Homo sapiens: one gene and its partner. The protein of the gene in region 1 purifies or fractionates together with the protein of each later gene. This does not show direct contact. Each region holds a gene or a part of one and is shown on either strand. Other genes may lie near its edges.

The links.
Region 2: the proteins of TRIM38 (region 1) and FLNC purify together in Homo sapiens (affinity purification with mass spectrometry, with the first as the bait; one large-scale study listed by BioGRID). This does not show direct contact.

The regions. Positions count from the first base shown.
Region 1 is NC_000006.12:25,965,498-25,969,310, reverse strand, and holds part of TRIM38 (E3 ubiquitin-protein ligase TRIM38), read right to left. Parts: intron 2,977-3,813; 5' UTR 2,789-2,976; coding exon 2,378-2,788; intron 1-2,377. UniProt on the Homo sapiens protein: E3 ubiquitin-protein and E3 SUMO-protein ligase that acts as a regulator of innate immunity. Acts as a negative regulator of type I interferon IFN-beta production by catalyzing 'Lys-48'-linked polyubiquitination of AZI2/NAP1, leading to its degradation.
Region 2 is NC_000007.14:128,847,230-128,851,042, reverse strand, and holds part of FLNC (filamin-C), read right to left. Parts: intron 3,347-3,813; coding exon 3,179-3,346; intron 3,099-3,178; coding exon 2,975-3,098; intron 2,483-2,974; coding exon 2,326-2,482; intron 2,251-2,325; coding exon 2,061-2,250; intron 1,863-2,060; coding exon 1,839-1,862; intron 1,713-1,838; coding exon 1,465-1,712; intron 1,068-1,464; coding exon 969-1,067; intron 882-968; exon of another isoform or gene 660-881; coding exon 560-659; intron 241-559; coding exon 100-240; intron 1-99.

The DNA of each region.
Region 1 (3,813 bases):
TGATAAGTGAAGCCTATTCAATTTGACTCTTCATTAGGGACCTAGGGGGAATCCCAATCTTCTAAGATATATTTGAATAATAGTGAATATTTATAGAGTCCTCATTGTTTTTTGCTAGAGAGCATGCTAAAGGCTATATGTGCAGGAACATACTGATCCCCTTGGCAACCCTGAATAGTTGGTAGGATTTTAAACTTCATTTCTGTGCTGTAGAAAATGAGACTAAGAAAGGGGTAAAATAACTTGCCCAAAGGGCTATGACTGCCAGGTGGTGGAGCAACAATTGCAATCTCATCTGCTGACCCAGAGCCTGAGCTATGTCCACCACTAGAGTCCTGCCAGGAAAAAGTTGGATATAGAACAAGGTAATCATCATCTAAAAGATTTTGTAAAACAACATGCTGAACCAAGCAAAACCAATACCAGTGTTTGGCACACATGAAATTTTGTGTCTTATGAGTCAGGAAAAATCAGGATGCCAGCTGGTTATTAGAAACAGTTCATGGAAGAGGGGAATTCTGGTATCTTTTGAACAATGGTATCATGAATCCAATTTAAAATGATTTAGTATTCATGTCAAGCTTTTAGCTTATTCTTCAAAACAGTTTCTCATATTTCTATTGAAAGTGATTTGAAGCTGACCCAAATTGCTAATTGTAGTCAATGCTGAAAGAATTGTCTCCTGTCCTCTGTAAACCCAACAAGTATACTCATTCATTCTCGAGTGTTCTCAGGAAAAGGTTCTATGTAACTGTTTTAGCAAAAGATGACATTGTCCTTACTATATGCCAAGTGCTATTCTATGCATTCTATATTTTAATGTCCTCAAAGCTTATAACCACCTCCTGTGTATGTGTTTTAGGGAGGGAGGACACTGCTATTATCCCCATTTACAGATGGAGAAACCAAGGTGTGAAGACATTAAGTAACGTGCCCAAAATTGCCCATCTAGTAAGTGACAAAACTCAATTTCAACATAAGCTGGTTCCTTTTCTTACTACTTGGTGGAAAAGTAATTCAAATGGGAATATGATCATCGCAGTTATTAGCTGCTCCATGGAGTTTAAGGAAGAGCTGCCATGAGCTGAGTGGTGGTCATGATTGACATGTCCTTAGAAGGACTTAGAGCCTTCATACAAGACCACCTCTGCCTCATGGAGGACAGAATAAGGAGCCTGACACTGGAGACAACATTTTCCTCAAATTTAGGCAGGACAGAGAAGGAAAAAGGACATCAGGACTATGCCCATTCCTCCATGCTGCCAACAGCAAAGTCCCACCTTCCTTAATATGCTTTCTGGCAAGAAATCTGGATGGTACACAAAACCTCTCCCTCTGCTTCACCTTCCACAACCAAGCATTTCCAAATCTTTGACTCTTCTTCCTGAATCGTGCTTAAAATCTGCCCTCTCCTCCCTTTCTTATACGGATAGTTTGAATTTTACTCCTTGATATTCCTTTTATCATAGACATGCCACAGTAGCTGGGCACAGTGGTTCATGCCTCTAATCCCAGCATTTTGGGAGGCTGAGATGGGAGGGAGACCAGGGGTTTGAGGCCAGTATAAGCAAGAAAGGCAGACCATGTCTCTACAAAAAATAAAAAAATTATCCAGGTATGGTGGGGCATCCCTGTAGTCCTAGCTACTTGGGAGGCTGAGGTGGGAGGATTGCTTGAGCCCCAGAAGGTTGAGGCTGCAGTGAGCCGAGATTGCACCATTGTACTCCAACCTGGGATACAGAGCAAGACCCTACCTCAGGAAAAAAAAAAAAAAAAAAAAAAAAAAGTAGAGGTACCAGAGTGATATTTTCAATGTCACTGACCCTTCATTCCCCAAATGAAAATCCCCCAATAGGTGTTCAATTTTTACGTGTCCTTCAGGAGTTACTTCTAAGATGAACCACTCTCTACCCTAAATGTCCCTCCCCACCACCAAAACCAGGGACCTCCAGGCAGACATTTTTGATGGTTTGTTTTCTTTACTAGACTGTAGATACCTAAAAGGTGATGGGTCTTTCTTCCCTGTTTTCAGGCCCTACTGCATGGCTTTACATATTGTGGTTTTTCAAATGATATTCATGGTGTGAAACAAGAAAAAATGCGGGTGTTTGGTTTGAGAACAACCTGTTCTAAAGCAAAAAGAAATTCATCATAACACAAATGGATAGAGATAAGAGTCCAACCATCCCATTGAAGGTCAGGATGGACAGTCTAGATAATTGAGCAAGAAATCATCATAAACTATTTTTCAGAAGAATGACATGATGAAAGCTGTATTTCCAAGTCATAATGTTAGGTTTCAAGTTAAATCATCTCAGCTCCTGGGGAGCAGGATAAGACTTGGTACTTACCAAAGCTCCCGGGCCCACACACTCACCTTGTAGCCCTGGCATACGTCTTCAACAAGAGCTGTGGTGTGCCCTTTGTGCTGTGGTGCCCGCTCACAGCGCCAGCAGATGAGCTGCCCCTCGTCTTCGCAGAACAGGTGGAACTGCTCTCCGTGTTCCTCACATGACATTTCTTGATCCGTCTCTTTGAGGGCTTCAATGAGGCTTCCCAGCTGCTTGTTGGGTCGGAGGCTATCCATATGAAATGGAGCCCGACACTGGGGACAGCAGAATGTCTCCTGCCTCAGTTGCTTTTGGCTTGGGTTTTTAAAGAAGTCTGTTATACACAAGTGGCAGTAGCTGTGTCCACAGTTGATGCTTACTGGGTTCGTCATCAGGCTCAGGCAGATGGAGCAGGTGGCTTCCTCCATCATCTTCTTGGTGCTGGTGGTTGAGGCCATAGCTTTTATTGAAAAGCTCCAATATTGGCTCTAGAGATGGAGATGAAGCAGCCAGAATTTTCCACCGTGATGAAAATACACCTCACCTGCACCTCTATGTGATGAGCTGGCTGCAACTGACTTCCATAGGTCTTGAAGGTTTTCCTTCCAACCCCTATTATCTCATTTTGTATTGAAGAAAAGAGGACCTAAAAGGAAGAAGTTGAGGCTGAGGTTGTTTGGGCCACGTTTGAGAACTGCAACCCAAGTGCAGAGTTTCAAGTTGCCCTCATTAGCAAGCAGTTACAAGTGGTTGTTTAGAGGAAAAAAAGCAGTTTTAAAGCAGTTTTAAAGTTGTTTGCCAAGAATTTACATTAAAATAGCATAAGCTTTTGACTGGCTATACATTGTTCTTTGTATTACAAATCTCGGGAATATGTAGGTAATAGATGAGGCAGCCAGTCAGGAACAAAATGCTTTTAAACATGGGGTCTTAACTGAAGACCTATACTCCTGCCTCACTTGTCCTGATAAATTTTGCATACCTCACATAGCTCAGACTGCTCTAAATTATTTCATTATTTTTCTTTTCTCAGTCTTCTAACTTTTTTTTTTTTTTTTAATGAGACGGAGTCTCACTCTGTCACCCAGGCTGGAGTGCAGTGACGCTATCTCGGCTCACTGCACCTCCGCCTCCCGGGTTCAAGCGATTCTCCTGCCTCAGCCTCCCGAGTAGTAGCTGGGTCTACAGGTGTGCACCACTACGCCCAGCTAATTTTTGTATTTTTAGTAGAGATGGGGTTTCACCATGTTGGTTGGCTCGATCTCTTGACCTTGTGATCCACCCGCCTCAGCCTCCCAAAGTGCCAGGATTACAGGCATGAGCCACCGTGCCCAGCCTCTTTTTCTTTTCTTATAAGACAAGTTCTCGCTCTCTTGCCCAGGCTGTAGTGGAGGGCAGTGGCATGACCACAGCTCACTGCAGCCTCGACCTCCTGGGTTTAAGCAATCCTCCTGCCTCACCCTGGCAGAGTGGCTGGGACTAC
Region 2 (3,813 bases), on another chromosome or scaffold:
GGGTGCTCAATAAATATTTGTTGAAAGAGGGAAGGCAGGACTGAAGCTACGGCCTGCTCCTCTCACCCAAGCCCCAGCCCAGCCCAGCCCCTAACTCACCAGGGATGTGGTTGCCGTCATACTTGATCCCCATCTGGTGCAGGCCTTTCTCAGTGGGTGCATACCTCACCGTGATGGTGCCGTCCTTGTTGTCGGTGATGTTGGGCCGTGCCGTCTTCCCCGAGGGCATCCGCACCTCTCCTGCAGGGCAGACACAGTTACGTGGAGACCCTGGTTTCCCCCACTGCAACCTCCCTGCTGTCCCAGGCCTGGTCCTGAGTGCTTCTGCTGCCACCCGAGAAGCCAGGCATCAAGAGACAGCCTGTGGCAGTGGCCTGAGCCCTGAACTGGGGACAGATGGCTTGCACCTGAGTTCTGGCTCTGCCCAACTTGCTGTGTGACCCTGGGTAGAGCTCACTTCCTCTCTCTGGGCCTTTGTTTTCATCATTAAGACACAGGACTGGGCCTGGAAGAGGGTTTCTCCCCTCAGCCCTCATGCCTGGGAGCCACAGGGCAGTACCTGTGAGCTCCCCTTTCTGCACCGCGAAGGGGATGACCAGGTTGAAGGGCCTCAGCATGGACTCCATTGGCTCCACAGGCACCACTGGCTCCTCTGTGGCCTGCAGCAGGTGAGAGGGAACAGTCAGTGACTGGGGAAGGCCCAGGAGTTTGACCCATGCTATGACTGAAGCTGGAGAGTGAGGAAAGAACAAGGTAGTTAATCATGAAACCAGCGTGGCAGGAGAGGTGCGTCAGCTGCAAGAGAAGGAGTGCTGTGCCCAAGTGGGGTTCCATCTGCCCAGCCTAACTCTTGCCTGCTCCCCAAGAGGCCCCCAGACCATGTCCCCGCCCTGGCTGCAGAGGAGTAGAGAGAAGAAATGAAGGAAGGGGAGGAGGAGGAGGACATCGCCTGGTGGGAGGCGCAGTACCCAGTGTGTGGGGCGGGCGCCGGGCCGGGGAGGAGCGTAGGGCTGGCGCAGCTGTGGCACTTCAGAGGGCTCCTCCTCGTGCGGCAGGGGGTCACACGCCTGGGGAGGCAAGGCACGGGGGCACAGGGTGTGGCAGCCTCACAGGCCTAGGGGCTGACTCAGAGAATGGCCCAGGAACCTGAAATGCTGGGTGATAATTTGGGTGTTCATCCTCCTGCAGGGCAGCCTCTGGGGAGATGGAGCTGGGGATGGTGGAGAGCACAGCGGGTTCCTCCAGAGACAGCTGACAGCACTGGGCAGGGGGCAGGGCCATGCTCTCCTCCCACTTCGGGGGTGCTGTGGGGAAAGTTAAGGCTCCATCCTGGAGCACTCTGGCCCCAGGAGCCCTCAGAGAAGTGGGATTCCTTGGGGACAGTTATCTGGGATCCCTGCTGCTGCTAAAAGGGCCAGGCCCCCCTCCCCAGCCATCTAGTCTTGCTGTGGCTACAGAACTTACCAGCACGTGGAAGGGGCTGTTGGGGATGTGCTCACCCCCGAAGCGGATGGTGATGACGTACTTGCCCGGCTCGGGCGCTGTGTAGTAGATGTCAAAGGTACCGTCATGGTTCTCAACCACATCCACATCGAGCTCTGCCCCATCCGGCGTGGACACCGTGCATGTCACCTTCCCCTCACCGGCTGCCTTGGCATCCACCGTGATCACCGTCTCCTGCCCAATCTGGATTCGAGGGCCCAGGCAGGCACCTGCCATGCGGGAGATCCTGCTCAGGGAGCTGGTGGGCTGGAGCCAGCCCTCTCTGTTCCCGCTGCCCGCCCCCTACCGCCAACCACCCTGGCCCACACCAAGAAGAGGAGAGAAAGGGCACTCACCCAGGCCATGGCCTCCAATGGACACTGGAAAGAGAGAAGAGTGTGAGGCCAGGCGGTGCTCAACGTGGGCTGGGGCATTGGGCGGGGGTGAGGGAGGGAGGGGCCAGGGCTAGGGCATGTGTGCTCTCCGACCAGCAGACCCCTGGGGACCAGGCCAGGGTTCTGGAGGGGCTTTGAGGGGCTGGGTGGTGAGCAGGGCACGGGCAGCGGGTGGGCACCCACCTGTGACGAGGCACTTGCTGGCATCCCCAGTGGGCAGAGCATGGATGCGGAAGGGCGAGTAGGGGATCTCATCACCGCCATACTTGATGGTGATGGTGTACCGGCCACTCATGTCCGGCAGGTAGGACACAGTGTACGTGCCATCCCCATTGTCCCGGATGTTGGCCTTCTTGGGCTTACCCTCGGGGTCCTGAGGGAGAAGCAGAGGTCAAGGCCCGCCTGTGCCTGGAGCATGACCTGCGGGGTGGGATGCACAGAGACTCACCAAGATCTGGACAGTGAGCAACCCCTCGCCCGCGTCCCGTGCGTCGATGGTGAACTCCACAGGCAGGCTGGCAGGGATGCCAGAGGCGTTGAGGCCTGGGCCGCTGGCCCGCACCTTGCTGGCATCATGAGCTGGGAGGACCTTGATCTTGAAGGGGCTTGAGGAGCAGAAGGGATAAACAGTTGGCTGGGTGGCATGGACGGGGCGGTGGGGGGTGATCTCATCTTGAGCCAGAGTCCTCCCCATAGACATGGGCAGGAGGGAGGACTGTGGGGCAGGGAGGAGGGACCAGTTCCCAGAAGCCGATGACATTCCATGTCTGGGGGTGGGGGCACTCTGGGACTCCCTCGACAGAGCCAGGGTACGTCTCCATTCCCCAGGAAGGTGCTGTGGGAGGGTCCAGGAGGAGGCCCTGGCCCAGGCCTCCTGCACTCTTCCTAAGGCGCTAGGTTTGCCGTAAAAGCTCCTGGGGCAGGAAAGCCTCACAGCAGAGAGCCCCGGGGAAGAGCGGGATGGGGTGGCGAGACTGGACGAGGCTGAGAGCTGGGAGAGGCTCTCCCAGGGGACTCCAGCAGTGATCCTGAGTGCCACCCCAGCAGGAGCACCCCAGAGCTCAGCCGCAGCACAGGAGCCCAGGGCTGGTCCTCACCTGCGTGGCACCTCCTGGTCAGCATACTTGACGGCTACCGTGTAGGGCCCGTCAGTGGCTGGGGTGTAGTGGACAGTGTGGGTGCCATCTCCATTGTCCCGCACCTCCACAGGCTCGGCCACACCTGGGCAAGGGGCACAGGGTCAGCAGAGCCTCCGGGCGTCCCGCCCCACCTCCCTCCTCCCTGCCCCGGCCATTCTATACCTGTGGGGCCCAGCACAGCCACCTGCAGGGGCGCCCGGCCAGCTTGACTGCAATCCACTGTGAAGGTCTGAGGAACCCGGGCCCTGACACCAGCCCCCAGCCCTGGCCCTGAGCACTTCACCTTCCCAGGGTCCACCACATCCTTCACTGGCACGCGGAACGGGCTCCCTGTGAGGAGAAGGACATTAGACCCTGCCCACCAGCCCTGATGGGTCCCCCTGATGCTGAGGAGCCTCGGAGGAGGAGGCCTTCCCTGCCTTTGAAATGCCCACAGGGAAGCCAGACCAACATGGGAAAATGGCTAGGAACTTGCTAAGAAAACACACACAAGAATAAATGAACTTGACTGCAGACTGAGGCTGGGCAAACCTCACTCATGTGGGTCCCAGGCCTGGAAGAGAAGGCCTTCCTAAATTAATAAAATGTGAAAATAAAATGTTTTCAAAAATGAAATGTATTTCTGACACTGTGGCTGAAATAATAAAAAGATGGGAAATTAGATAAGGGAAAAAATTTCCAATTTCAGCAGTCCCAAGTCATACAATATTTGAAGACATGACCTGCCCGGGCAGCTGGGTCTGCAGAGGGCAGGGGAGTTCTGCAGACGATGCGTGCAAGAAGGCCCAAGGCTGGCC